Homo sapiens: one gene and its partners. The protein of the gene in region 3 purifies or fractionates together with the protein of the main gene of each other region. This does not show direct contact. Each region holds a gene or a part of one and is shown on either strand. Other genes may lie near its edges.

The links.
Region 1: the proteins of P2RX2 (region 3) and KIAA1586 purify together in Homo sapiens (affinity purification with mass spectrometry; 2 studies listed by BioGRID and IntAct, with this or other methods). This does not show direct contact.
Region 2: the proteins of P2RX2 (region 3) and HS2ST1 purify together in Homo sapiens (affinity purification with mass spectrometry; 2 studies listed by BioGRID and IntAct, with this or other methods). This does not show direct contact.
Region 4: the proteins of P2RX2 (region 3) and GALNT11 purify together in Homo sapiens (affinity purification with mass spectrometry; 2 studies listed by BioGRID and IntAct, with this or other methods). This does not show direct contact.

What each region holds. Positions count from the first base shown.
Region 1 is NC_000006.12:57,042,554-57,050,130, reverse strand, and holds the start of KIAA1586 (E3 SUMO-protein ligase KIAA1586), read right to left. Parts: upstream 3,439-7,577; 5' UTR 3,376-3,438; coding exon 3,355-3,375; exon of another isoform or gene 3,210-3,354; intron 2,819-3,209; coding exon 2,735-2,818; intron 1-2,734.
Region 2 is NC_000001.11:87,099,246-87,106,827, reverse strand, and holds part of HS2ST1 (heparan sulfate 2-O-sulfotransferase 1), read right to left. Parts: intron 3,397-7,582; coding exon 3,239-3,396; intron 2,359-3,238; coding exon 2,132-2,358; 3' UTR 1-2,131. UniProt on the Homo sapiens protein: Catalyzes the transfer of a sulfo group from 3'-phospho-5'-adenylyl sulfate (PAPS) to the 2-OH position of iduronic acid (IdoA) or glucuronic acid (GlcA) within the heparan sulfate (HS) chain and participates in HS biosynthesis.
Region 3 is NC_000012.12:132,614,130-132,621,892, reverse strand, and holds the start of P2RX2 (P2X purinoceptor 2), read right to left. Parts: upstream 3,118-7,763; 5' UTR 3,077-3,117; coding exon 2,904-3,076; intron 2,455-2,903; coding exon 2,319-2,454; intron 2,215-2,318; coding exon 2,143-2,214; intron 2,050-2,142; coding exon 1,974-2,049; intron 1,894-1,973; coding exon 1,797-1,893; intron 1,627-1,796; coding exon 1,546-1,626; intron 1,449-1,545; coding exon 1,310-1,448; coding exon of another isoform or gene 1,305-1,309; intron 893-1,304; coding exon 762-892; coding exon of another isoform or gene 639-761; coding exon 548-638; coding exon of another isoform or gene 529-547; intron 419-528; coding exon 353-418; coding exon of another isoform or gene 275-352; coding exon 1-274. UniProt on the Homo sapiens protein: ATP-gated nonselective transmembrane cation channel permeable to potassium, sodium and calcium.
Region 4 is NC_000007.14:152,098,144-152,105,725, reverse strand, and holds part of GALNT11 (polypeptide N-acetylgalactosaminyltransferase 11), read right to left. Parts: intron 4,929-7,582; coding exon 4,805-4,928; intron 4,532-4,804; exon of another isoform or gene 4,343-4,531; intron 2,615-4,342; coding exon 2,448-2,614; coding exon of another isoform or gene 2,425-2,447; exon of another isoform or gene 834-2,424; intron 482-833; coding exon 356-481; coding exon of another isoform or gene 339-355; exon of another isoform or gene 1-338. UniProt on the Homo sapiens protein: Polypeptide N-acetylgalactosaminyltransferase that catalyzes the initiation of protein O-linked glycosylation and is involved in left/right asymmetry by mediating O-glycosylation of NOTCH1.

The DNA of each region.
Region 1 (7,577 bases), on a different chromosome or scaffold from region 3:
TAGGCACAGTGCCAGTCTCAGCTGCTCAGGAGGCTGAGGCAGGAGGATCACTTGAGCCCAGGAATTCAAGTCCAGCCTGGGCAACATAGTGAAAAACCCACCCCCTGGCCCTACCTCATTAAAAAAAAAAGATAACAGATTTCATAGTACAATTTTTTTTAACTGAAATGATTATCAGTAATCTCGAAGTTCTTTGATAACCCTGCTTTATCCTCCACATCACTGTACAGCCAAACATCAAACTCTGAGTCTTCTTGATCCTTTCTTTACATATACACTACCCTCATCATAGACCAGGCCATAAATGCCCTAGTCAAAATCCTAGATTTTATTCTGTAGGCAAAGGAATCAATAAATAACATCAAGATGGGAACATTATTAGAGCTGTTTCAAGAAGGTTAACCACATAAGAGAGCATGTGGGAAGAATACAAACAAGATAATCAATCTAGACAAATGGTAATGTGGTACAAAAATAGTGATGGCAAGGAGGAAGTAACCTTCCCTGTATAGGTACTATATTTCAATAAAATTTACATTAAGATAAGGACTCTTTTTGTATCCCCAAATCTTTTATCATTCCTTTCTTTCAGCATATTGTTTATTTTGGAGGCTAGGTACATGACAGAACACAAAGAGGATTCTGTGCCACAACGCAGAATGAAGGCTAGATAATCAACATTTATATGAAAAGACTAAGGAATCCAAACCAGAATATATCAAGAAGTAACAAACTTTTTTTTCTTTTAATCTGAAGAACCCACAAGCAGAGAACTATACCCAGCAGCATTGCATCTTTACTGGATGGTACTATAAAAAACACAGAGAAATAAGCATATCCTGGTAGAGCCCAGTATAGGATGGGGTTACAAAGGAAAGTTGTCTCTGAGTGTATTTCAAAGTGGAATTAAGTTATCATTGTCTTTTATGTGGCACCACTGAAATGCAACAGGGATGTTTTACTACATTCTTTCTGGTACTGCAATTACACTGACAGCATGTAATTCACTTCTCCATATAAGAGCTGTCAAACCTTTGATCTTCTATTTTGAACAGGGTTAAATATAAAGGGTTCTATCACGCTGGATATACAAAATATTGTATGAAAAGATGTAGAAGGATCTTTATATTTAAAATAAAATTTAAAGTAAGAGTTTTAAACCTCAGCTAAACACAGCCTATATATTAACTCACAATTTAAAATATAATGATTTATTCCTCAGGATATTACACAAATCTATACCTATTTACTTTTCCAAACTTAATTTTGTACATCCCATCTGTGTTTCTCAACGGCACATGGATCATGAATCAGACGTATGTCACTTCTACATACTTTCTCAATGGCACATGGATCATCAATCAGACGTGTGTCACTTCTACATACAGATGCACAAAAAACTCATCAAGATCATCTGTCCCAATCATTCCTGTTTTTATACCAGTTAAGAGGAAACCAAAATTATTTTTCCTAAAGACCCATGAACTCCTCTTCCCAAATGTTTCTCGTTACAAAAACAGAAACCATTGCTCTTTGATTTCAAGTTACGTTGCTTACTCCATAACAACAGTGAAGGCAGAGTCAGCATACAATCTCCCTTGGTATCATCAATATTTAGAAAGGTTCCAAATGTCAGGAACAAAATATACACACACTATTAATTGGGAAATATGTCCAGAAAGTGACAGGGTAAAGAACTTATACACAAAACACGAAAAACAAACAACGATGTTAACAAAACAATGTTTAGGGAGGAAATTTTAATTTAAAAAACAAGTGACTTACAAAGTCGCCCTAAACCTACAAAAACTAAAAAACACAGAAACATTAGACAGACACTCCATTAAAGAAAAATTCTACAGCCTGAATACCAAACTGCAACTAACTACGGCATTCCAAAAGACGAGTTGGGGACAGAACTGTTTTCTGCCTGGCGAGCTGAGATACCACTTTACGCAAAGCCTTTCTAAAACTCCAACAATTATGGATGAAAATCACCCCAAAATATATCATAAAACACTCCCTTCTGCTTTAGAAACCCATTCTGTCCAAAGTGTGCTCAGAAATCCTTATGTCCCTGCACTTGTCTGAAAATGAAGATTCCTAGGCCCCCGCCTGGAAATTCTGATTCGGTAGGTCTGCAGTGGGGCCCAGGAATCTGCCTGTTTATACTTACTAAGGCTTGAAAACTACTGTCTCAAAGGGAACAAACTCAGAAAAATAGAGCATGTTCCCAGTGATGTAGGATTCTTCATTATGAGCATCAACTGTACTATGCCGTAACATGATGATCTCAGAGGTTAGAGAAATCTTCAAGCTATTTGCCTTCATGTTAGAAGCACCATAACGCTAAGATTCTGGGCTCTCACAACCCTTCCTGTTTTCTACGTCCTTGCTCATCATTAGCAGCTCCTTCCTCCGTGTCGCCTTTAGAAGTTACTCTTGCTCCATTTCAAAACAGCGTTTTAGACACCAGCGTTTTTATCTTAAGTTTAAATGAAAGGCAGGGGGCGAGATTAAGTGTACAGCACGTTCTTTAGGACGTGCTCTTTGTGATGGCTACGGGGGTGGCTCAGATAGCTCTTTTGGTAAATTTCCCAATCCTGCGCCATGCTCCAGTGTCTAGTATGTATTAGACACTCATGAACATTAAATGACCAGGTGAGGTAACATTACATAATGGCCCACCATAGTCTTTTACTCTGGGAAAACCCCAATCATCATTGCTACTTACACTGACAAACTGAATGTCGTCTTCATTTTCATCCGTTGTTGACTCAGATGCCTCAGGGCCAGCTGGAGGGACAGATTCTATTATCTATAAAAACAAGCCAAAACATGCTTATCTGTTCAGCCACATTCGTGTAGGAAGAGAGCGTTTCCGAAAGGAACAATTAAAGACAGAGAGCTCTTGAGGAAAACGAACTGAGCACAATTTCACGGAAACCCGACTAGGAACGGAACTCGAGCTCTGGCTCTTGCCACAGAGTGTGCGGAGCTGCAGGGACCCAACGCTGAAAACGCGTTAGTTACCAGCCTCTCACAATTCCCCTTATCTACTCCAGGAGGAACGCAAGCTCAACACCGAAGGGCAATCCTGCCTTAAAACGTCGCTCCCACTGGCCCAGCCGCGGCCACAACGAACGCCAGGGCCCGTGCGGGGGGCCGGGCGGCCATTGTTGCTGCGGGTTCCTCGCTCAGACACGCACCAGGCCCCAGAGCTGGGCTCGGCCCAAGACACTGAAGAGGTATCGCCCCGAGGCTGCGACGGAGCACCAGGCCTCAGACCGCAGAAAACACAAACCCTTCGCGGTTCGCCTCTGAGAACGCCAGGACCCTCACTCGACTACTCACTTCCGACCCCGGGTCTCCCATGTCTCCGACGGCCGCGCTGACAGCACCACTGCTCCTGCTGTCCCTACTGCCGCAGCCGCCACCACTCCCCTTCCCGCCCTGCACCGCCTCGCGCTACCGGGACCCGCCCCTGCGTGAGCTGGGAGGCCACTGGCGGAAAGAGACGAAAACCGCTTCAAAAGAGGGGCAGCCCTCACTGGTCCGCTATCTCCCCGGAGCCTCTTTCTCTCATTCCCGGGCTTCCTTCCCCGCGCCGCAGAGGATGCTGGGATGGTAGTTCCTACCCGCCGCGCGACCGCGCCGCGCGACTGCCCCGCGCGTGGGTGAAGAATGGAAAAAGACTCTGAGCTACAGCGAAGTCGTCTCCCTTCGGTGTTGCTCTACTATAATAAAATAGCCGAGTTCTTTCTCTCACTTTTTCACAACCAAATATTCGTCTATGTAATAGATCAATGGGAATGAAAAAAAATTGTGTGTGATTTGCTCAGAAATTGCCTTACCAAAATCGTGGCTCACCTTTTTATTTTAACATTTATTCACAAATGATTTTAAACATGAAATTTATGAAAGCAAATTTTAACAGAGAATATTCTTTTAAAGCTTTTATTTGTTTACCTCTATCAGCCTAGGACCACCTGTTATTGACAAGTCTGTAGTCCCAGAAAATCACCTTTATCATTTTGACCCTGATCTACAATGCACAAAATTATACAACAAAGGAGCTATGAGGTATCTGATTAGCCAACTGATCTTCAGCAAAGCAAACAAAAACATAAAGTGGGGAAAGGACACCCTTTTCAACAAATGGTGCTGGGATAATTGGTGACCCACATGTAGAAGAATTAAACTGGATCCTCATCTCTCACCTTATACAAAAATCAACTCAAGATGCATCAAAGACTTAAATCTAAGACCCGAAGTCATAAAAATTGCTCAAGATAACACCGGAAAAATACCTTCTAGACATTGGCTTAGGCAAAGACTTCGCGATGAAGAACCCAAAAGCAAATGCAACAGAAACAAAGATAAATAGACTGAACTTAATTAAACTAAAAAGCTTCTGCACAGCAAAAAAAATAATCAGCAGAGTAAACAGACAACCCACAAAGTGGGAGAAAAGGAGAACATAGGAACAAAGGAAAACATAGACTTACTAGGATTTTAAGGAGTTGGTGAAATTTAAGTGAAGCAGTGTTTTGATAGGTTCAAAACCGTCTAGTGCTGTGTGTAAAGGGTTCAACATCACATACGGACTGCATAGCGAGCCCAGGGTCTTGTTAACTTCAAAACTACAAAGTTAACACACACAGAGTATTGTGCTCAGAAACCCCTTCCTCCGTGTAGCCATGCCCTAAGTGTGTGGATTTATTTCTGGGTACTGTATTCTGTTCCATTTGTCTGTGTGTCTGTTTTTATACCAGTACCATGCTGTTTTGGTTACTATAGCTCTGTAGTAGAATTTGAAGTCATGTAATGTGATTCCTCCAGTTTTGTTCTTTTTGCTCAGGTTAGCTTTTGCTATTATTCTCGGTCTTTTGTGGTTCCACATAAATTTTAGAATTGTTTATTCTGCTTCTGTGAAGAATGTCATTGGTATTTTGATGGGGATTGGATTCAATCTGTAGATTGTTTTGGGTAGTATGGGTAGTATGGACATTTTTTAAAAATAAAAATGTATTTTTTATTTCAATAGGTTTTTAGGAAGCAGGTGGTGTTTGGTTACATGCATAAGTTCTTTAGTGGTGGTTTCTGAGATTTTGGTGCACCCATAACCCAAGCAGTGTATCCTGTACCCGATGTCTTTAATCCCTCACCCCCTCCCACCCTTTCCCGAGTCCCTGAAGTCCTATGTGTCATTCTTATGCCTTTGTGTCCTCATAGCTTAGCTTCCACTTATCAGTGAGAACATACAACATTTGGTTTTCCATTCCTGAGTTACATCACTTAGAATAATAGTCTCCAGTTCCATCCAGATTGCTGTGAATACCAGTATTTGCTCCTTTTTATGGCTGAGTACTATTCCATTGTGTGTGTGTGTGTGTGTGTGTGTGTATGTATGTGTATATACACCATTTTCTTTATCCTCTTGTTGATTGATGGGCATTTAGGCTGGTTCTATATTTTTGCAATTACGAATTATGCTCCTATAAATATGCATGTGCAAGGATCTTTTTTGTATAATGACTTATTTTTCTGTGGTTATTCCTCTTCCTAGTAGTCAGATTGCTGGATCAAATGGTAGATCTACTTTTAGTTCTTTAAGGAATATCCACACTGTTTTCCATAATGGTTGTACTAGTTTACATTTCCACTAACAGTGTAAAAGTGTTCTCTTTTCACCACATCCATGCCAACGTCTATTATTTTTTGATGTTTTGATTATGGCCATTCTTGCAGGAGTAAGGTAGATTTGCAGTGTAGTTTTGATTTACATTTTCCTGATAATTAGCTGTGTTGAGCATTTTTTCCATATGTTTGTTGGCCATTTGCATATCTTCTTTTGAGAGTTGTCTATTCATGTCCTAAGCCCACTTTTTGATGGGGTTGTTTTTTTTTTTCTTGCTGATTTGTTTGAGTTCTTTGTAGATTCTGGATATTAGTCCTTTGTCAGATGTATAGATTGTGAAGATTTTCTCCCAGTCTGTGGGTTGTCTGTTAACTCTGCTGATTTTTTCTTTTGCTGTGCAGAAGCTTTTTAGTTTAATTAAGTCCTGTCTATCTTTGTTTCTGTTGCATTTGCTTTTGGGTTCTTGGTCATGAAATCTTTGCCTAAGCCAATGTCTAGGTTTTTTCCGGTGTTATCTTGTACAATTTTTATGGTTTCAGGTCTTAGATTTAAGTCTTCGATGCATCTTGAGTTGATTTTTGTATAAGGTGAGAGATGAGGATCCAGTTTAATTCTTCTACATGTGGGTCACCAATTATCCCAGCATCATTTGTTGAAAAGGGTGTCCTTTCCCCACTTTATGTTTTTGTTTGCTTTGCTGAAGATCAGTTGGCTACAAGTATTTGGCTTTATTTCTGGGTTTCTATTCTGTTCTGTTGGTCTATGTGCCTATTTTTATACCAGCACTACGCTGTTTTGATGACTATGGCTTTGTATATAGTTTGAAGTTGGGTAATGTGATGCCTCTAGATTTCTTGTTTGTGCTTAGTCTTGCTTTGGCTATATGGGCTCTTCTTTGGTTCCCTATGAATTTTAGGATTGTTTTTCCTAGTTCTGTGAAAAACGATGGTAGTATTTTGATGGGAATTGCATTGAGTTTGTAGATTGCTTTTGGCAGTATGATCATTTTCACAATATTGATTCTATCCATGAGCATGGGATGTGTTTCCATTTGTTTGTGTCATCTATAATTTCTTTCAGCAGTGTTTCGTAGTTTTCCTTGTAGAGGTCCTTCACCTCCTTGGTTAGGTGTATTCTTAAGTACCTTATTTTATTTATTTATTTAATTTTTATAGGTATTGTAAAAGAGGTTGATTTCTTGATTTGATTCTCAGCTTGGTCGCTGTTGGTGTATAGCAGAGCTACTGATTTGTGGACATTAATTTTGTATCCTGAAACTTTACTGAATTCATTTACCAGTTCCAGGAGCTTTTTGGATGGGTCTTTAGGGTTTTCTAGGTATATGATCATATCATCAGCAAAAGCAACAGTTTGACTTCCTCTTTACCAGTTTGGATGCCCTTTATTTCTTTCTCTTGTCTGATTGCTCTGACTAGGACTTCCAGTACTATGTTGAACAGAAGTGGTGAAAGTGGGCATCCTTGTTTCATTCCAGTTCTCGGGGGGAATGCTTTCAACTTTTCCCTGTTCAGTATAATGTTGGCTATGAGTTTGTCATAGATGGCTTTTATTACTTTAAGCTATGTCTCTTAAACATAGAGTTGATTTTAAGTGCCTTGAGGTAATCTTCTTTGGGTTAAATCTGCTTGATGTTATATAATCTTCTTGTACTTGGATAATAGTATGTTTCCCTAGTTTTGGAAAGTTCTCTGTTATTATCCCTTTGGATAAACTTTCTCTCTTTTTTTTTTTTTTTTTTTTTGAGACAAAGTCTCGCTCTGTCACCCAGGCTGGAGTGCAATGGTGCAATCTCGGCTCACTGCAACCTCCACCTCCCAGGTTCAAGTGATTCTCCTGCCTCAGCCTCCTGAGTAACTGGGACTACAGGCACCCGCCACCACGCCTGGCTAATTTTTGTATTTTTAGTTGAGACAGG
Region 2 (7,582 bases), on a different chromosome or scaffold from region 3:
CTTGCATACTGGGTTTGTTCATTAGCATGTAATGTCAAACCACACCTTGAAGTGGTGCTTTATTTTGGGCGAGGAAATAATTTGTATACACTTTCAGGAAATACCTATAAAAGTCAATTTGAAAAAAGGAAAGAAAAAAGCCAAATTTAAAAAAAGCCTGCCTATGTTCTTTTAATATTTTTATATTATTGTGAGGAAAGGGTGCTAAGATGATTGTTCTGTCATTCTTTTAGTTTTTCTTTAGTTTATAAATGTTTCTTTTGTTTATAAATGTTTTCTCATAAGAAGTGTTCCCTCATGCCCTCCCATAACCTTTAAGGCAATCTACCTAAAATGCTTACAGTATGGTGAAGCCTTATTCAGAAATATTTACTTAAACCATAGGTATAGAATAGCTACCATTTCTGAATAATAATGTAAAATGAAAACAGAAACAGCTTTCAAATTTGAAGAGAAAAGTTTCCCTGACCCTAGTCAGCTAACAAAGCCTATTTCTAACAGTGAACTTCCTGAACTCAAGCAGCTGCTCATGAAGCTTTAAGAGTTCACAGGCATTTCATATTTCAATAGTTGTTGAAACATGGAAGATAAAACACTGAGAGGATATTTATCAAACACAAATTTATATCAAGATTAACTTTTTCAACCAGCTTACAAGCAGACTTTTCCCTTTCTTTGTTAAAAAATGAATGGTATGAAACTATATGTTAAAGATGTTTCTATAATACCTTACATTTACATAGCGCTTTACAATTTTCAAAGTGCTTTCACATGCCATCTCATTTAATCCTCACAACAGCCCTGTGAGGTAGGTACAGCAGGTATTATTATCCTCATTTCAAGATGAGGAAATTGAGGCAAAGAGAGGTTAAGTGACTTGCCCAAGATCACACAGCTGTAAGTGCTAGAGCTAGGACCTGAAATCAAGTTTTTTGACTCCTTGTCCAGTACTCATTCCACTGTAATTACTGCCTCAAGTTATGAATAATGAACTGTGTATCAAAATTGAAAGCTTACTGAAGTTCATTTCAGTGATGTCTTAACAGTAAAGTTAAATGAGAAATACAAGAACAGTAGGTCTGATGGTTTTACTTGACATAAAATTGGTGCAAAACCACTTTTGTCTAATTACTTGTAACCTTTTGGTCCAAATACATAAAATATGCAATATTTACAGCATTTTCCTTGTTTTGTAAATGCAATGCTTTAAAACACATTATAAAGCACCTTAGTAAAAATAGTCTACAGGTAAAAGTACAGAAGAAGTAGGAAAATCCTACCCATACCACAGCTCACTAATGGAGTCATAATACGGAGTCACCGATATCTCAGTTTACAGCTTTACAAATAACCCATGGAGAAACAAATACTAAACTTACTTTTTTGATATTAATGTGTGAAAATCTTAACTAAAACTTCAGACAATCTCAATATTCTTTGAAGTATCTTCCCAGTATTAGATATTGAGGAGGCAGGAATGAGAAATACTGCTTTGATGCTTTATCTTTTTACCATATTAGTCATGATTTAAATTGATTTTTAACACTAATCACCATTTAAAAAATTAAAACCACCTACATAAATATGGGCAAATCCAACTACAGCAGAAACATTTCTTAGCAAATATGATTAAACATTCCAATAAATTTCATGAGACATGACTCACAAAAACAAAGTACACACTGCCAAACAGTTATTAACACAATTCAGTAGAGGTGTATAACCCAAACCCTCAGTGAAGGCAGAAGAGGCAAATGGACTCATCTTAATTCATGGTTAGTTGAAAAAATGCTTTATCAAAAACAAGAGTATCAGAACCTTTTCTGAAATTGTATTTAGCCTTTTGATTAGACCTGCCATAAGTTCATTTTAGGTGATGTATATTTTCTCCCAGGCAGGAGGTTATAACTTTCACCAACGTTTAGCCAGGAAAAATAAAAATGCCTGAAACTTAGAACACTGACAATGCCAGCCAGTATCTACTTCCTTGACGTTACTGTCTGTTTCCTAATTTGGCTCAATACAAATTGTCATATACACCTACTGTCAGCAATCCAGACTGTGGAGCTGAGAACAAAGGTGAAGACAGGGTCAAATTTTAGTTCAAGAATCCAATAGTCACACCTTATACTCAGTTCGACTTAGGGTAAATCTTTTCATAGAAAAAGTTTTGTGCGAGGATGTAGAGGTCTCCATCTTTTTCTCGAACGGCATGGGCTCTGATGAATTGGAACTGCTCTAGTGCAAATTCATAGAACTCATTCTCCATTTTCCAAATATCAGATTGCTGTAGTTTTGCAATGGTTTGTTTAGTGGGGAGTTTCTTCTCTGTGGTTTTCCTAAGATGAGATTTCTTTCCTACTTACAAAGGGGGAAAAAAAGGAAAGGTAAATAATTCTTGGAGAACACACAAAAGATCAATGCCTCTTTATTTGAAGAGGTGGTTAATATGACACATTAAGAACAGGTAACATAATTGTCTTATATAATTCAGGTAAAAACGGAGCCTTGATCAAACTAGAGCCATGATTCAGTCCTTTAGAATGTTAATCCTTAACCTAGTAAAGACTTAATGAAATGTCAAATAGTCAATGTAAGGATTGGCACACAGTAAAGTGTAGGCTGTCACCTCACACACTATATTCTCAAGTGCTTGGTGCTCTGAGACTAGTTTATTTTTGATAAAATACCTATTGTCAAACTGTATTCTATTTTCTCATAATCTGTATTCTCTAAAATTATGTGTTAGAAGCTAGGGCATATGCATCCTCAAGGAGAAGAGTTCCTATGACTGCATCTTATCAAGCAATAGCAAAAAACGAAACAAAACAAAAACACAATTAGCTTATCACTTTCAGACACATGATAATACGGCTGAGGCTGCTAAAACATGGCTTAGGCATACTTCAGTTCCCCTATCACACCTCTACTTCAAAATGGTAGTAGGCAGGACTTATACACAGGCCTAATGTTTGATATCTGGCATTATTGAATACCATACATTTCTATGGCTGGTTCTGTACTTTGTATCATTCCACTATTTCTACAGTGCCTTCTAATTTTCACCTAATTCACAGTTACTCAATTGAAAATAGTGAGCAGAAACCGACAAGATACCTGCCTTTCTGGAGCTATCTGTTGTGTTTCACTGAAGAAACTTCAAATCACATATTTACAAGTTGCAAACCAAAAAACCAAACCAAAGAAAGCTTTAAAAAGAAACCCTTCCTTTATATACCTGTGCGATAGAGTTCAGTAGCACCCCTGAAAAACCGGGGCAATGCTGCCTCCAATAACATGATAAAATCTTCAAGTTCTTCAGTAACTCCCACCAGAAAATATTCATTAATTAGGTTATACTTGGCTTGATCCATAGCCCACCTGCTTCCCACATTCCTGAAACCAAAGAAAAGGAATTAAAACCTGGTTGTGAAATCTGCTGAGTGTTTCTGGTGCCTTTGACACCATATATTACAGAGAAAATAGATAAACACATGTATATCCAAAGCCTCAATGCCTCTTTATTACCATCCTGTGGGAGGCACACCTGTTTCCAATTTCATTTGCTTCCATCTCCAGTTTCTGCTCAACTATGAGTGCTAATTCAGAGTTTACCAGAGGACTCTTAACATGAGCAATTTAGTTTAAGGGCACTTTAAAAATGTATATGGATATAAGAAACATACACCCCTCCCATATGATTTAGTGTGTGTTTTAACTTTTTTAAACTACTCTAAATTCTGTTAAGAGCTCTCTAGCAAAGTGTAAACAATTTGTGTTTACTGCTTATTGTGTGAGTTTCGGGTTTTTGTGAGCTAAGTGTTTTCTGAAATTTCTGAGGAACAGAAAATAGATAATGGCTCTGCTAAGAATCTTTTATTTTTATTTTAATTTACATTGTCAGCTAATGCTATTAACAGAGATTTGATCCAAAATAAACTATACTTTTGGGTTCTTTTTAGCACAAATATTCCTTAATCCAAATTCTAGCTCTGCATTTAAGTAGCAGTATGATCTTGAGCTGGTGGCTTCACCTTTCTCAATTTTGTTTTCTCAAACTATTAAAAAAAACAAAGAGGGGGAGGGGAACAGTGATTAATTGGTTTCTAAGAACCCTCCCAGTTCTGTGAATCTATGAAACATACTAAAGAAATACAATTAACTTCTCAAAAATGCCCAATAGAGCAAGTCTTTATTGTTCTAAGGCAGGGATTGGCAAACTTTTTATATAAAAGGCCAGAGGATAAATATTTTAGGTTTTGCAGACTACATAGTGATATGGTTTGGATATTTGTTCCCTCTAACTCTCATTCTGAAATGTGATTCCCAGTGTTGGAGGCTGGGCTTGGTGGGAGGTAACTGGATCATGGGAGCAGGTCCCTTGTGAATGGTTTAGCACCATCCCCTTGGTGATGACTGAGTTCTTGGCTCAGTTAGTTCATTAGAGATCTAGTTATTTAAAAGACTGGGGGCCTGGTGCGGTGGCTCACACCTGTAATCCCAGCACTTTGGGAGGCCAAGGTGGGCGGGTCACCTCAGGTTGGGAGTTCAAGACCAGCCCGACCAACATGGAGAAACCCCATCTCTACTAAAAATACAAAATCAGCTGGGCATGGTGGTGCATGCCTATATTCCCAGCTACTCAGGAGGCTGAGGCAGGAGAATTGCTTGAACCTGGGAGGTGGAGGTTTGCGGTGAGCCGAGATCACACCATTGCACTCCAGCCTGGGCGACAAGAGCAAAACTTTGTCTCAAAAATAATAATAATAATAATAATAAACGACTGGGTCCTCCCCCTTCACTCTCTTTCTCCCACTCTTGCCATATGATGTGCCTGCTCGCACTTCACTTTCTGCCATGATTGTAAGCTTCCTGAGGCCTGCATCATAAGCCAAACAGATGTTGGTGCCATGCTTGCACAGCCTGCAGAACCATGAGCCAAGTAAACCTTTTTTCATTATAAATTACCATCTCAGGTATTCCTTCACAGTAATGTAAGAATGGCCTAATAGAGAAAATTGGTACTAAGGAGTTGGGTGTTGCTATAAAGATACCTGAAAATGGGAAAGTGGCTTTGGAACTGGGTAATGGGCAGCGGTTGGAAGAATTTGAAGGGCTCAGAAGAAGACAGGAAGAAGAGGGAAACTTTGAAATTTCTTAAGTCGAGACTGGTTTAATGATTGTGATAAAAATGCTGACAGAAATATGGACAGAAGTCCAGGCTGATGAGGTCTCAGAGGGAAATGAAGAAGTTACTGAGAACTGGAGTAAAGGTCACCTGTGTTATGCCTTAGCAAAGAACTTGGCTATGTGGTGTCCAAGTTCTAGAGATCTATGGAAGTTTGAACTTAGAGTGATGACTGGTCGGGTGCGGTGGCTCACACCTGTAATCCCAGCACTTTGGGAGGCCGAGACAGGCGGATTACCTGAGGTCTGGAGTTCGAGACCAGCCTGGCCAACATAGCGAAACCCCATCTTTACTAAAAATACAAAAATTAGCTGGGCATGGTGGCACACGCCTGTAATCCCAGCTACTCAGGAGGCTGAGGCAGGAGAATTGCCTGAGCCCGGGAGGCGGAGGTTGCAGTGAACCGAGATCGTGCCACTGCACTCCAGCCTGGCTGACAGAGTGAGACTGCCTCAAAAAAAAAAAAAAAAAAAAAAAAAAAAACAAAAAACACACACACACACACAAAAGTGATGACTTAGGACATCTGGCAGAATAAATTTCTAAGCAGCAAAGCATTTAAGATGTGGCCTGGCTGTGTCTAAGAGGCTACAATCAAATGCAAGAGCAAAGGAATGACTTAAAGTTGGAACTTACATTTTAAAGGGAGGCAGAGCATAAACATTTGGAAAATTCACAGCCTGGCCATGTGGTAGAGAAGGAAAGCCCCCTCTTTTTGTTGTTTTTTGTTTTAAAGACAGGGTCTTGCTCTGTTACCCAGGCTGGATCTTGGCTCACTGCAGCCTTAACCTCCTGGACTCATGTGTTCTTCCTACCTTAGCCTCCCAAGTAGCTGGGACTATGGGCATATGCCACCACACCTGGCTAACTTTATGTTTTGTAGAGATGAGGTTGCCCAGGCTAGTCTCAAATTTCTGGGCTCAAGTGATCCTCCCACTTTGGTCTTCCAAAGTGCTGGAATTACAGGCATGAGCAACCACTCCCACTGGAAAGCCTATTTTCCAGGGAATAGGGCAGGGAATAGGGAAGGAATTTAATAACACTGTGGAGCAATCACTTATTAAGGAGGTTAGCATGACTAAAAGGGAGCCAACTGCTAATATCCAAGACAATGGGAAAAAGGCCTCAAAGGCATTTCAGAGATCTTCCAGGCTGCCCCTCCCATCACAGGCCCAGAAGCCTTGGGGGGAAGAATGATTTAAGGGGGCAGGCCCAGGGTCCTGCTGCCCTGAGAAGCCTTGGGACATTGCTCCCCACATCCCGGCCACTCCAGTTCCAGCCTCAGCTCAAAGGAGTCCAGGTATAGCTTGGGCCACCACTCTGGGGGAGCATAAACTGTAAACATTGGTGGTTTCCAGGTGGTGTTAAGTCTGCAGATGCTCAGAATGCAAGCATGAAGGAGCTTGCATTCCACCTAGATTGCAGATTCCACCTAGATTTCAGAACTGGGTTGCACTGCAGCCCTCACCCCACACAAAGACTCAAACAGGGAACTGCCTAGTGGAGCTGTGGGAAGGTGATTATGCCCTCCAGACCCCAGAATGGTTGGCTCACCATCGGCTTGCACGCTTTGCCTGGAAAAACTACAGGTACACTCAATTCCAACCCATGAGAGCAGCCATGTGGGCTGTACCCTGCAAAGCCATGGGGGCAGGGCTGCTCAAGGCCTTGGGAGCCCACCCCTTGCACCAGGATGCAGGAGATGAAGTCAAGGATTATGTTGGAGCTTTAAGATTTAATGACTGCCCTGCTGGGTTTTAGACTTGTGTGGGGCCTACTGCGCCTTTCTTTTGGCCAATTTCTCCCTTTTGGAAGGGAAATGTTTATCCAATGCCTATACCACCATTGTTACTGGGAATAAATAACTTGTTTTTTATCTCACAGGCTCATAGGTAGAAGGAACTCATCTCCAGATGAGATTTTGGACTTGGGACTTTTGAGTTAATGCTGGAATAAGACTTTGGGACTACTGTGAAGGGATGAATATATTTTGAAATATAAGAAAGACATGAGATTTGGTGAGCCAGGGGCAGAATAATATGGTTTGGATGTTTGTTCCCTCCAAATCTCATGTTGAAATGTGATTCCCAATGCTGGAGGTAGGGCCTGGTGGGAGGTGATTGGCTCATGGGAGCAGATCTGTCATGAATGGTTTAGTGCCATCCCCTTGGTGATAACTGAGCTCTCGCTCAGTTCACGTAAGATCTGGTTGTTTGAAAGTCTGGGAACCATACCCCCACCCCTACTGCCCACTTTCTTGCTCCCACCATGTGATATGCCTGTTCCTGCGTCACCTTCTGCCACGAGTGTAAGCTTCCTGAGGCCCTTGTTGGTGCCATGCTTGTACATCCTGCAGAACAGTGAGCCAATTAAACCTCTTTTCTTTATAAATTA
Region 3 (7,763 bases):
CAGAAGGGGCAGAGATGGGGCAAGGCCGCAGGGGCGGGAAGGCTGGGCCACACTCTGCCCCTTGTTGGCCCTCCTGGCCTGATGGAGGGCTGGGGTGCTGGTCCTCGGAGCGGTGGCCGGGTTCGGGAGGGGCCTGGCCCAATACACGGGCAAGGGTCACAGGCCAGCTACCTGAGGGGTGGCTCGGCGTACACACCTTGTCAAATTTCTTATGGCTGTAGACCTTGTTTTTGTTCATGAATGTTAGCAAGATCCAGTCGCACAGGAAGGAGCCCTGGGGCCAGCAGAGACCGGTGTGTAAGGGCCTGGTGGACCCCCCGCACCCGCTGGGACCCCAGAGAGGGTTCCTTACCACCCCGACGGAAGTCAGAGCTGTGGCCAGATTAATAATGGTGGGAATCAGGCTGAACTTCCCGGCCTGGGGAGAATGGGGGTCGTGGTCAGAATGTCTGACGGCGTCTGATGGGGCTTAAGGGAGGGGTGGGGCGTGAGGAGCTCAGACCCAGGCTAGCAGGGCTGGCCACCCACCCCCAGCAGGTGCAGGCACCTGTCCATGCACAATGACGTCAATGCGGATCCCGTAGGCCTTGATGAGCGTGCGGGTGGTGGTGCCATTGATCTTGTAGTATTTGGCAAACCTGCAATGGGAACGCCAGTGCCCACTCGTCCTCTGCACTCCAGGGCTGCCCCACAGGCATTGGGCCTCTCGGGACCCCACCACAGCTATGCCAGTGTGGACAGCGGTGTCCCAAGTACAGCACCTGAAGTTGTAGCCTGACGAGGCAGGCACGTGCTTGGGGTCAAGCCTCCGGAAGGAGTACTTGGGGTTGCACTCCGATGCAGGCAGGTCCAGGTCACAGTCCCAGTTGATAATGACCCCGATGACACCACCCTGCCAAGAAGGAGCCAGAGAAGGGGGTCAGGAGGGCACACGAGAGGCCCCTCGAGAGCCCGGGTCAGTCCCAGGCCAGGGAAGGGGGTCACAAGGGCACACGAGAGGCCCCTCGAGAGCCCGGGTCAGTCCCAGGCTGCATGTGAGGTGTGCACTGAGGGGCCCATGGGGCAGCTCAGGGGTACTGGTGGGCGTCCAGTGTCTGAGGCACAAGGGGTGCCAGCAGCCAGCCCCATGGCCAGTGTCAATAATTCAGCAAGCGCCACACCGGATGGGTTGCGCTGATCGCATTTCTTTTCCTCTGCCTGAGCGGGGCCAGCTGGTCAGGAGGGAGGAGGGACTGGTCCCCTGTACCCCAGGCCCTCTCTGTGCAGGTGGGAGCCCACCCTGGCCCCACCCTGCCTGCGCTTGCCCTGCCTTGTGTGCGAGCTCTGTGAAGCTCTCCCCAGCCTTCTCCACGATAAAGCCCAGCTTGAAGATGGGGCAGTAGAGGTCGGAGGCCTCGTGGAACGTGCAGCGCTTCAGGTACCCGTCTGTGCGGTCGGCGATGTTGCCCCTGAGGAGGCGGCAGGAGGCGAGACCTGCACCCCAAATACCCCATTCCCAGAAGGCAGCCCTCAGGCTGGGCCGTCACCACACCCCGCGGCTCTTACTTGGAGAAGTGGAATTTGGGGTAGTGGATGCTGTTCTTGATGAGGATGGTGAAATTTGGGGCCATCGTACCCAGAAATTGGCTGAGGAGGCACAGAAGGGTTGTTTAGTCCCCTCTTCCCGCAAAGCCCCCGCCTGGCATTGGCCCCCACCCCTCCCCAGATCTTGTCACTCCTGCCCCGCCCGTTTGGCCTCTGGTCAGGGGAAAAGGATCAGAGGGGAGGCTGGGCCCCAGGCCGGGGCGCAGGTGCACCTGACAGAGGCCCCATCTTCCACCGGGCACCAGCCGAACACCTCGCAGGTCTTGGAGGGCCCCTGGTAATAGGGCACACAGCGCCCAGTCCTCAGGCCTGGGAGGCAGAGGTCACTGAGGCATTAGCGGGGACGCAGCCCTGCCCCACCCGCCCAGCCCCAGCTGGCGCACACCGACCGTTTCCCAGCATGTCCAGCTCCCCAGCCACGCAGTCGGCGTCGGAGAGGCAGGTGGCGTTGTGGACCCTTATGCTCTAGGGTGGAGGCGGCCCAGTCAGGGACCCCGCAAGGGACAGCTGGCCCGCCTAGCTGAGGCGGGGTCCCCCAGCGCCGCGGGATCCCCTCACCTCGGGGCAGGTTCCCTGGGTCTGGGAGTGGGTGGCCTCGACCCTGGTGATGATGCTGAACACGCTGCCCCCCTGGGCTCAGAAAGAGGGGGCGGTCGGCCAGGCGGCAGCCGCTGCCCCCTCCGCCCACTAGGGTAGGGTGCACGGCGGGGCGGGGGGCAGGGGGCGGCCCGCACCTCGGGGGGCTTCACGTACTCCTCCACGTCCCACACTTTGTGCTCGGACGTGGTGATCCCCTTGACCTTGGTGATGATGGAGCTCTCGGGGCCCGTCTCGCTCTCCTGGTAGCTTTTCTGCACGATGAATACGTACCTGCGGGCAGGGGCGGCGCCGGCTCCGGAGGCGACCCTGGGAAGGCTGAGTCCCGCCCGCAGGCACGGCAGGGGCCCTCCCGCGACCCGGGTCCGCTCTGCGGGGCTCTTGGGGCCTGCCCCGCGCCCTCGGTCCCAGCCCCAGCCCCTGCCCCGCGCCCCCGGTCCCAGCCCCAGCCCCTGCCCCGCGCCCCTGGTCCCAGCCCCAGCCCCGCGCCTCCAGCCCAGCACCCCGAGTCCCAGCCCCTGCCCCACGCCCCCAGTCCCAGCCCCTGCCCCGCGCCCCCAATCCCAGCCCCTGCCCCGCGCCCCCGGTCCCAGCCCCAGCCCCTGCCCCGCGCCCCCGGTCCCAGCCCCAGCCCCAGCCCCGCGCCTCCAGCCCAGCGCCCCCAATCCCAGCCCCTCCCCTGCGCCCCGCACCCCGCGCCCCGCACCCCGCGCCCCGCGCACCACACGAAGTAGAGCAGGATGAGCAGCTGCACGGCGCGGTACAGGACCCCCAGGCGCCGGTTCCTCACCACGATCACCTTGGGCGTCTCGTAGTCCCAGAGGGCGGACCAGCAGCCCCGGGCCAGGCGCCGGGCGGTCGCCCCGGCGGGGTACTTGGGCTGGGCGGCGGCCATGGCGCGGGCGGCCCCCACCTCCAGGAAGGCGCTGCAGGGCTGAGGGTCGGCCCCGCTGCGCACCGAGAGCGGGGGGCGCGCGGCGGGCGGGTAGCTCGCGGCTCCGCCTCCGGGGTGCGGCCTCGAGCCCGCCCCGCCTCGCCCCGGCCCCGCCCCGCCCCGCAGGTGTCCCGGGAGTCCCGGGTGTCCCAGGTGGGGCTGGGAGCGGGGCCTCGCGGGGACAGAGCCGGGGGCGCGGCAGCCCAGCCCCAGCTCTTGGTCCAGGTGGGGGCCGAGCGCGGAACCGGCGGTCTCGAAGTTGGAGGGTCGGGATTCCCCGGGTGGGAACTTTTTCCGAGCTCGAGGAGAAAGACATGGGAAGTCCCGCCGGCCTCCGCGGCGCCCCCCACCCCGTCCAGGCCGGTTCCTGCCGCGGCTGCCGGGGCTTCGAGCGCAACCTGCACTCCCGCCTTTGCCAGCAGACGCCTCGCTTCCAGCTCCTGCCTCCGCCGCAGCTCCAGCCCTCGAGCTGGAGAGGGATCCACGGCCGATCCGTTTTCTTCTTTGCAAGCCAGAGTTTTCTTTCTTTCTTTCTTTCTTTTTTTTTTTTTTTGGTAACTTTTCGAACCTCCACCCCACCCACATTATTTTGAAGCAAATCCCAAGCATCACAGTTTTTCACAAAATAATTTTAAAATAGTTTATTATGATAAAATCAGCATAGCATGTAATTAACTATTTTAAAGTAAACAATTCAGTGACATTCACAACATTGTGCAACCACCACCGCCTCTGTTTCGTCCCCAAACACTTTCCCCACCCCAAAATAAAACTCCCATCCATTAAGCAGTCACGACCCGTTCCACACTCCTCCCATGCCCTGGCAACCACTGGTCGCTTTTCTGTCTCAGTGAATGGACTTGCCTGTTCTGGATATTTCATATCAAGGAAATGCAATATTTGTTTCTGGGTTAATGCCTTTTCTGTCTGGCTTCATTCACTGAGCATGTTTTCAAGGTTCATCCACATTGTAGCATGTGTCAGGGCATCACCCCTTCTTATGGCCAGGAGAAATGTCTAGGCTATCCAAAGAAGGAATTTAGATTGCTTTCAAACTAACTCTGTGAATAGTGCTGTTATAAACACTGGTGCATAAGTATTTGTTTGAACTGTTAAATTAACTCAATTAACAGGCTGCCTCTGTGCCTTGAGTTTCTAGGTAACAACAAACTGCAACCTAATGTACCACAGAAACAAGCTAAAAGCTTAACCTATGAGTATATTTTGGAACAAATAGCTGGGTCTCAGCCAGTCACAGGCTGCTAACTGATCTGATCATGCCATATAAGGCAAACATTTCAAGCAGTAACAAAATCAAGCTAATTGTGATTTTTTTTTTTTTGTATCTCACTTCTGTGTTCTATCTATAAAAACTTCCTGCCCACATTACAGAGTGGAGCTCTCGAACCTCCCCCATTGGTTCTGAGTGCTGCCCAATTCATGAGTTGTGTTTTGCTCAATTAAACTCTGTTGGCTGGGCACAGTGGCTCATACCTGTAATCCCAGCACTTTGGGAGGCCAACATGGGTGGATCACTTGAGATCAGGGGTTCGAGACCAGCCTGGCCAACATGGCGAAACCTCGTCTCCACTAAAAACACAAAAGTTAGCCAGGTGTTGTGGCATCTGTAATCTCAGCTACTCGGGAGGCTGAGGCAGGAGAATCACTGGAATCTGGGAGGTGGAGGTTGCAGTGAACTGAGATTGCACCACTGCACTCCAGCCTGCATGACAGAGGGAGACTCTGTCACACACACACACACACACACACACACACACACACACACACACAAACTCTTAAATTTAATTTGTCCAAAGTTTTTGTTTTAACAGTTTGGTGTCAGAAGTGGGATCTGAAGTAGACCTCCAGCCACCCCCTAGGAGCACTGAATGCTCAGTAGGGCCTGTGTGCCTGCTGATCTCTCAAAGCATCTAGAGTCATAGGTGAGTTCTCTCTGCTGGATTTGTGCTCTATGACCATGTGTTTTGAGCCCTCTACTTTGAGCAATTCTTTTTTTTTTTGAGATGGAGTCTCACTCTGTTGCCCAGGCTGGAGTGCGGTGGCGTGATCTCAGCTCACTGCAACCTCCGCCTCCCAGATTCAAGCAATTATCCTGTCTCAGCCTCCCAAGTAGCTGGGATTACAGGCACATGCCACCGCGCCCGGCTAATTTTTTTGTATTTTAGTGGAGACGGGGTTTCACTGTGTTGCCTGGGCTGGTCTCAAACTCCTGAGCTCAGGCAATCCACCTGCCTTGGCCTCCCAAAGTGCTGGGATTACAGGCATGAGCCACGGCGCCCGGCCTTGAGCAATTCTTAGACCGGAATGGGTCCAGGATTGAATTGGATCCAAAACTTAACTCTATTGTATCCAGTTAGAGGCCTTGAGTAGGTCCCTTTTGGCTTGGGTTTGTCTGAATCCAAGGAGTCTGCGTGCCGCCTTCTGGGACGTTTGCTAATTATGTGTGTAAGAACTATGGACCCAGAACTTGTGCACATTTTAGAAAAATCGGCTAACCCCAAACTCAAAAAGACCCCTCCAGATTCTTGGAACCGTACACCTTTCGGAGACCTTAAGGTGAAGCTAACCAGGGAAGTTTTCCCCAGAAGCAGACGGGATCCTAAATGTGGACAGCTTTTCCAAGATCATGGGTTGAGACTTCTCTGCCATCATGACAGCCTTAGCCTCCCCCTGGCCCCTTATTTCCTGCTGTCTGAATCTTTTCCTTTTCATTACAGGAAAATCCACAGCACCATAATGTGTGGATGGCGTCAGCTAAGGCTTACGCTCTAGGAAAAACCCAGAGTGGTAGTTGGGTTTGTGGGTTAATGTCAAAAGCCAGGAAACTACATCAATCCCTGTCATTTTTCACGATGACGGTCACTCTGGAACTCCCAGGGGAGAGTGGAGAGCGTCCCCATGTGTCCCAGGGGAGACTGGAGAGTGTCCCCATGTGTCCCAGGGAAGAGTGGAGAGAGTCCTCGTGTGTCCCAGGGAAGACTAGAGAGCGTCCCCGTGTGTCCCGGGGGAGAGTGGACAGCCCATATGTCCCAGGGGAGAGTATCCCCGTGTGTCCCAGGGAAGAGTGGAGAGCGTCCCCGTGTGTCCCGGGAGAGAATGGACAGTGTCCCCGTGTGTCCCAGGGGAGAGTGGACAGTGTCCCCCTGTGTCCCGGGGGAGAGTGGGGAGCGTCCCCATGTGTCCCAGGGAAGAGTGTTCCCGTCCCTGTGTCCCAGGGGAGAGTGGAGAGCATTCCCGTGTCCCAGGGGAGAGTGGGGAGTGTCCCCGTCCCTGTGTCCCTAGGAAGAGTGGACAAACACACTCTCCTTTATGTTCCAGACACCGCTGCTATCACTTTCATATACCCGCTGAAACGGTGTTCTGACCTTTCCAATTAATAATCCAAACACTGCTCATATGTAAAGCGTGCCTGAACGATGCCTTCAGAAGGTAGATGAGGCTCCAGGCATCACATACTCAAGACCTGGGAGTTCTCTCTGTGGGTGGGAGACACGGCATGTGTGATGTCACTGGATTGAGTCCAGTGAGGTCCCTTTCCATTAACTGTGGTTACACACCCTCACAGCACACTGTAAAGGGAAAAGCTTCATACCGGAGCTTTTCCGCTGGACCTGCTTCGGGAGCTGTACTGACATGTGGGTGAAAACGTGTCACTGACTTCTGCTCAGATGCCACCAGGTGGCGCCCTTTTCCAGCCCCCGAGAGCTTCTGCTGGGTCTGTGGAGAATCCGCTGTTGGGCCTCCTCACTGGTTTGAATCTTGCAATTTGGTCCGGCTCAGTCCTGCCTTCCAAGTAGCTTCCCCTGACAGTTCCCACCCAGGATACCTCCCATAATCGGAGGCCAAAGCAGTCAACAACCAAAATTAGCACCAGCCTTGAAATAAATGAAGTTAGTTTTCACTGAAGAAAGTTTCCATTAGAATTCTTGGTGGTGGTGAGGTGCTGGTTGTGTGGAATTCTAACCTAATTAGTAAATTGGGGAACATCTTGGGCTTTGTGGCCAACCCGACCTCCCAGGATTTTTTTTCCCCCCAGAACTCCATGAGTTCACTCCCAGGGATTTAGACGGGTGGAAGTCACGCTCTGAAAGGTGGATTACTAGAAATCACACAGCTTTAGGTCTGTTAAAGGATATCTGCAAAACAACAAACAAACAAACAAAAACCCAGTTAACAACTTTCTTCCTAAAAATTATTTTTTATTGTAATAAAACATTTAACATGAGACCCACCCTTTTAACAACATTTTAATTGAACAATACAGTATTGTTAACTACAGGTGTGATGTTGTATAGCAGACCTGGAACATACTCATTTTGCATAACTGAAACTGAAACTTTATCCCTGTTCAGGAGCAATTCCCTTTTACCCTCTCTGCAGCCTCTGGCAACCACCATTCTACTCTCCACTTCTATGAGTTTGACAACATAATTTTTTTTCATAATTTTTTTTGAGATAGGATCTCACTCTGTTGCCCAGGCTGGAGTGCAGTGGTGCAATCCTAGCTCACTGCAGCCTTGACCTCCGGGCTCAAGTGACCCTCCCACCTCAGCCTCCTGAGTAGTTGGGACCACAGGCACGTGCCACCACGCTAGGCTACTTTTTCCATTTTCTGTAGAGACAGGGT
Region 4 (7,582 bases), on a different chromosome or scaffold from region 3:
TTAAATTTTGTATTTAAAAACATAAAAATTCAGTTACATTTTGGTCTGGGCTTTTCTGCTTATATAAGTGAATAAGATATAAAATATATTTGAGGGGCAGTAAGTATCAAAGAAGGGTTGCTATGAAAATAGACACTGAGGATTTGAGAGTTCAGCCCCCTGCACTATGTGCTTTGGGATGGCAGGCTTGGCGTTATGAACAGGTCTTTCCCAAACAGAACAAGCCTCATCTCTCCTGCTGGCAATGTCCGTTTGAAACACTACTCTTCATAGACTTTGCAGAATCAGGACAGGCGCTGAGGCTCGAGCCCTTGTCATCCAACACCTGTAGAGCAAAGCTAACGAGAAGTGATACCTGTCGCGTGGGCCGCGCCAATCATTCTCCCTCGAATCAACCCCTCACGCTTTGTATTTCTTATGACTTTAATTTTTCCAGGGAGGTATTTTTGGACATATTCATCTAGTTCTCCTTTCAAATCATCTGAAAATAAAGTCCCACAATTATTCAAACTGTATGAGACATATATAAAGACACTTTACAGCTATTCTAAAGTTGTATCTAGTACTTGCTAAAATTTACAACAAACTATCAAGCAAATACTACAGAATATTTTACTTTAAAAGAGTATTGTAGCTTATCCTGTAGGAAGAAAAAGAAATGAAGGGTAAGAGCTGGAATACTAGCAAAGAGGAATACTTACTTTAGTTACAGACTTATTTGTATCTCCATAGCATCGAGCACAATGCTTTGCACAAAGAATGTTTGAAATGAGTATTTTGAGTGCATAAATGTTCAGCTGACCATATATAAATCACATTGATAACAAAGAAAATGAGATATAAATGCCTTTTATTACAAAGGAATTTATTAAGTCTTAGTCCATTTCAAAATAGTTAAGAAACAACTTCTATTGCCCCTACCAAGAATAACAAGAACAGCATTGAATATGTCCTTTTATTAATTTAGCATCTTTCTTCCAAGGTTGCTAAATATTTTTTAAGGAATTCTATGTCATTCACCTGTATATTTCAGAATAACTTGAAAGATCGTGTAAGATAATAAGCAGTAATTCTTTCCATAGTTAATATACAAACCACCTCAAATTATGAATTTTTCCTTTTAGGTAAAATAGCCACAAAGTGAAAACCAAAATACAAGTTGACTTAAAAAAAAACAAAAACCAACCATAAATTCTAGAAATCAGTATGTAACCAATCTTCTACGTGGTCCAGACTCAGATTTATTTATTAGGTTTTTTGTTTGTTTGTTTTTGGCCAAGGTTTGAGAATTTTGCTCCCATGACTCTCTCCATTTCTTTACCTTCTATATTTAAGTATACTGGTATACCAACTCTGATGTTGATACAAGTGGTACTTAATAAACGCTCGAGTGCATGAAAAAGTCACTGGCATACACCTGTACCACTGTGTTCCTGCAGCCTGCTGTCATGAAAAGAGCAGAAGGCTTGGAGCTATGCAGACCAGAGGTCTCATTTCCACTCTACTACTTAACAGCTATGGGGTCTGAGCAAATTACTTTTTATATTTCTCCCTCTATAAAATGGGCTTCCAGCCTTTCTTGCAAGGTCACTGAGAGCTGAATGAGCAGTGTAATAAAAAGCCTTCTATCCTGTTTGGGTACACAAAGCCATTCTTAGCAAGAGTCTATGTTGAATTAAGAAAGGCGTACAGAATATAGAATATGTAGTGAATCATAAAATACTGGCATTCAGAGATCATTGAGGAGCTATCAGAATGCAATCCACTTTTATCTGGGGACGATCAGTGTAAGAGACTTAATAGAGAAGCATAAGCCAAGGCATCATGCCAAATGAAAAAAGCCCATCTCAAAAGGTCACATACCGTGTGATTCCATTTATATGACATTCTTGAAATAACAAAATCAGAGATGGAAACAAAATCATAGAGTCGTGGTTTCAGGGACTGGGGAAGAGTAGAGGAAAGCAGGAGGTGTGACTAGAAAGAGGCAGCACAAGGGCCCTCCGGGTGAGGAAACAGTTCTGTATCATTGCAGTGAGGGTTGTGGGAGTCCACCTGTGTGACAGAATGACCCTGGACCACACACACTGTACCAATGTGGATTCCTGGTTCTGACAGGGGAATTTTATGATGGAGCAACTGGATAAAGGTACATAGGCCGTCTTTGTAACTTCCTGTGAACCTACAGTTATTTCAAATAAAAAGAGGTGTGTTTTTTAAAGTAAGCCACGGAAAAAATTTCACGGCCCAAATTTGGGTAGCATAGTTTATAAGCAGGTTACAAAGATAATGGATTTCTTCAGACTTATTTGTGGTCAGCCCAGCTGTGACTGCACGTGTAGGATCCCCACCTACCACGTACTTGAAAGTTCAGCTGTGTTAGTGTTTGTCAGTGCTGTAGTGACTGACAGCCTGGATCCAATGTTACCAGGTGCAGCATTCCTTACCAAAGTCACTATCATCATCCACAAGGATGATCTCATGAAGCAGGTGTGCTGGCGTGCGGTCTATGACACTGTGCACTGTCCGAAGCAAGGCAGAAAACGCTTCATTATAGAAACAGATAACAACACTAGCAGCTGGCAGGTCAGGTGGGTAGAACTTTTCTTTACATCTGTAAAGATAAAGATGAGGAAATTCTGACATTTTAAAAGGCTCGAATGGTTTAGATTATTATTCACCTACAGATTTACTGTCCCCTTGTTCACCCTCTTCCCCCACCCCCTGCCTTTTTTTTTTTTTTTGAGACGGAGTCTCGCTCTTGTTGCCCAGGCTGGAGTGCAGTGGCGCTATCTCGGCTCATCGTGACCTCCGCCTCCCAGGTTCAAGCGATTCTCCTGCCTCAGCCTCCCGAGGAGCTGGGATTACAGGCATGCGACACCACATCCGGCTAATTCTGCATTTTTAGTAGAGACAGGGTTTCTCCATGTTGGTCAAGCTGGTCTCGAACTCCTGACCTCAGGTGATCTGCCCACCCCAGCCTCCCAAAGTGCTGGGACTACAGGCGTGAACCACCACGTCCAGCCTGTTCAGCCTCTTTCTAACATTATGGTAACAACAATTTTTTTTAAAAGCATTTACAAAAACAATACGGTTTCTTCTTCAAGAGTTTTACATTTTGCTAATAATGTCTCCCTCCTATACCTGCTATCTTGTTTACTTTTGGATAAATTTTTTCTTTTTTTGAGACGGTGTCTTGCTCTGTCACTAGGCTGGAGTGCTGTGGCGCGATCTCGGCTCACTGCAACCTCCGACTCCCTGGTTCAAGCGATTCTCCTGCCTCAACCTCCTGAGTAGCTGGGATTACAGGCCTGCGCCACCACGCCCAGGTAATTTTTGTATTTTTAGTAGAGACAGAGTTTCACCACATTGGCCAGGATGGTCTCGATCTCCTGACCTCGTGATCCACCCACCGCGCCCTCCCAAAGTGCTGGGATTACAGGTGTGAGCCACCATGTCCAGCCGAATAAAGACTTTTTAAACTTCAGGGTTTTTTTTCTTTTTTGGAAGAGAGGGTACATAAAAATGTGAGTTCTTTTTACCAAAATCACTGCAAGTGTTTCATGCAGCACTCATGAGCTGATGTCCAGCTTCTCCTCAATGAGGTTTCAAAAGGAAACAAATATAAGACTTTATATTTGAAATTTTATTTTTTTGCCCAATAATAAAAAAGATTTGAATAAATTATGATATACCAAGATAACAGAAGAGCTTCCATGTATCAAATCATTCCAAGCAACTATTTGGGAAAAAAAGGGTTAGGAGCTTTAAGCAACATCAAAAAGCCATGAACTGGCCAGGCGCAGTGGCTCACGCCTGTAATCCCTGCACTTTGGGAGGCCAAGGTGGGCAGATCACGAGGTCAGGAGTTTGAGACCAGCCTGGCCAACATGGTGAAACCCTATCTCTACTAAAACTATAAAAATTAACCAGGCGTGGTGGTGCACGCCTGTAGTCCTAGCTACTCAGGAGGCCGAGGCAGGAGAATCACTTGAACTTGGGAGGTGGAGGTTATAGTGAGCCGACATCATGCCACCACACTCCAGCCTGGGCAACAGAGAAAGACTCCATCCCCCCCCCCCCAAAAAAAAGCCATGAACTTAGAGAACACATTGAGAACCCTGAATTCTTTCCCAGGGCACACACAGCCCTCCAGCATCTGAGCCCTGCCTCCCTCCAGCCTTGTCACCTCTCTGCAGGGACCACTCCAGTACTATGCCCCCATTTCCCCAAACCCTGTCACAGCCCTTACTCATGTAAGGACTTGTTGACTTATTTGCCTCCCCTGCTAGACTCTAGCCCTGAGAACTGAGGAACTACTACATCTGTTTGTTTCTTCCAGGGCTCAAGACGGCGTGTAGCAAACAGAAGGTGCTCAACAAATGTCTGTCTGTGGAATGACTGACCACATGCACGAAAAGCCTTTGATGGAAAAAAAACAATGAAAGAGAAAAGTGAAATGAGAGTAAAATTCTTCACTGATGTTAATTCCTATTTGCCATGAATCCAATCAATAAACATTTAGAACAAACTTATACTCAGGTTATTTAATTAGCACCCTACTCTGCTTCCCCAGGTGATCTGAAATGTTAAAGGAGACACAGCAAGCTCCAGGACTCTGTTGGTACATCTCAGACCATGTGGCTTCACATATAATACAAGTGGAAATCTGTCTCAAGTTTCCTAGTATGCTGAATAAAGACGCTGCATTGGGAAATATGAACCCCGTCCTCGTGACCTCTTACACTGACACTAAAAGCATCGTGTTGTTAAAATGTATTTGCAAATCCGATAAGGCACATACGCTGCATTCCTTGTGTCTGGCACATCTCTGTGGTAGCCCAAGCGGTCACTGATAAGCATATTAAAAGCATGTTTCTGATAGCCCAAGTCTCTCAACTCTTGATCGCGTTCATTAAAAATCATACCTGCAAAAGAGTGAAGTTAGTCAGCGAATTAAATCTAGAAAGTATCATGTTACTGTTAACGATATTATGATCTTAAGAAAATGCTGACTTTATCCTATTATAATCTAATATCTCTTTTCTCAAACTTAGGTTGTCTCTAGGTTGAAGTCAAATTCTTATCAGTCTAGGTCAAAGCAAGGTGTCTTAACCATAAACACCACCTGCTCACAAGCCATAATTTTTTTTTTTTTTTTGAGATGGAGTTTCCCTCTGTCGTCAGGCTGGAGTGCAGTGGCACGATCTTGGCTCACTGCAACCTCCAACTCCCTGGTTCAAGCGATTCTCCTGCCTCAGCCTCCCGAGTAGCTGGGATTACAGGCAAATGCCACCACGCCCAGCTAATTTTTGTATTTTTAGTTGAGACGGGGTTTCACCATATTGGCCAGGATGGTCTCGATCTCCTGACCTCGTGATCTGCCCACCTCGGCCTCCCAAAGTGCTGGGATTACAGGCGTGAGACACCACGCCCGGCCACAAACCATAATCTTAAGAATAGTTTATTATATTCAAAAGAAAAATTTACCTGCAACCAGGAAAAAAATTTTTATAATTTTCCATTAAAGCAATAGATTTTAGAACCCCAGTGGCCCTTGACAGGCCTCAATTACATGCGAGTTTTTACAGGAGTCCCTCCCCAGAAAAAGGCGACTGATAAGCTTTTCCATAAAAAGAGCTTCCCGGGTCAGACGCAATGGCTCACGCCTGTGATCCCAGCACTTTGGGAGGCCAAGGCAGGAGGACTGCTTGAGCCCAGCCTGGGCAACACAGCGAGACCTTGTCTCTACTACAAAAAAAAAAAAAAAAAAAAAAATTAGCCAGGTGTGGTGGCTCAGTGGCTCACACCTGTAGTCTCCATGACTTGGCTACTCAGGAGGCTGAGGCAGGAAGACTGCTTGAGCCCAGGACATCAAGGTTGCAGTGAGCCACAGTTGTGCCACTGCACTCCAGCCTGGGTGACAGAGTGAGATCCTGTCTTTTCAAAAAAAAAAAAAAAAAAAAAAAGCTTCACAGTTTCTGGTTTAACTGTCAGGGAATTCCTCCACAGGCCTAATCAAAGTCACTGTAATATTAGGCAGGGCGCGGCTGCTTATGCCTGTAATCCCAGCACTATGGGAAGTGGAGGCGGGCAGATTGCTTGAGGTCAGGAGTTCAAGATCAGCCTGGCCAACACGGTGAAACCCCATCTCTACTAAAAATACAAAAAAAAAAAAAAAAAAAAAAAAAAAAACTAGGCGGGAGTGGTGGTGCATTCCCGTAGTCCCAGCTACTTGGGAGGCTAAGGCAGGAGAATCTCTTAAACCCGGAAGGCAGAGGTTGCAGTGAGCCAAGATCGCGCCACTGCACTCCAGCCTGCAGAGCAAGACTTTGTCTCAAAATAAATAAATAAATAAATAAATAAATAAATAAATAAATAAAAGTCCATTTTTAAAAAATAGTAGAACTCTGTTCCTTTAATACAGTGAATGTTTTATGAATATCCAGGTGTAAAGGGTTGAGATATAGAATGCAGTGTTTCCAGCCGGGCGTGGTGGCTCATGCCTGTAATCCCAGCACTTTGGGAGGCCAAGGTGGGTGGATCATGGGAGGTCAGCAGTTCAACGCCAGCCTGACCAACATGGTAAAACCCCGTATCTACTAAAAATACAAAAATAAGCCAGGCATGGTGGCACACGCCTGTAATCCCAGCTACTTGGGAGGCTGAGGCAGGAGAATCACTTGAACCTAGGAGGCGAATGCAGCAAGCCAAGATCATGCCACTGTACTCCAGCCTGGGTGACAAAAGCAAAACTCTGTCTCAAAAAAAATAGAATGCAGTGTTTCCCCAATTTATCTGAACGCAACTAGTGTCCCCATATCTACTTTGAGAAACATTATCTCTTAATATGCCTTCTCTCTGAAACTGTTTCAAATGCAGTTCATCCTTTTTAAACACAAAACAACAAACCTCCACTAGCATTTTATACAAGGAGAGAAACTCCACAAGAGAAGAGACTTTGGTGATGACCAAAACATAAAAGAAATAAAACTAAAATTGCTTGATACCTAGAACCTAGAGCAGAGCCTTGCACAAAGAAGATTCTCAATAAATACTCCTTAATTCAACAAGTATCAGAACATGAAAGAATCATGTTCTATTATAGGTCTCTTGAAAAGATTCCATATGAAAAGATTGTTTTAGCTTACTTTTCTTATTCCCCTACTCAAAATTGTAGCCAAACCTCAATGAATTAACATGCCAGAGGACCCTTTTCAATTAATTTTATAATTAATTTCAGATTAAATGAGAAAATGTTTTTAATTTTAAATTTATTTATTTATTTATTTATTTTTTTTGAGACAGGGTCTTGCTCTGTCCCCCAGGCTGGAGTGCAGTAGTGCAATCTCGGCTCACTGTAGCCTCTGCCTCCTGGGCCCAAACAATCCTCATAAGTAGCTGGGACTACAGCCATGCGCCCCCACACTCAGCTAATTTTTAAACTTTCAGTAGATACCACCTTAAGCTGGTCTTAAACTTCTGAGCCCAAGCGATCTACCAGCCTCAGCCTCCCAAAGTGCTGGGATAACAGGTGTGAGCCACCATGCCTGGCCAATAATCTTTCTCAAATATACCTTTT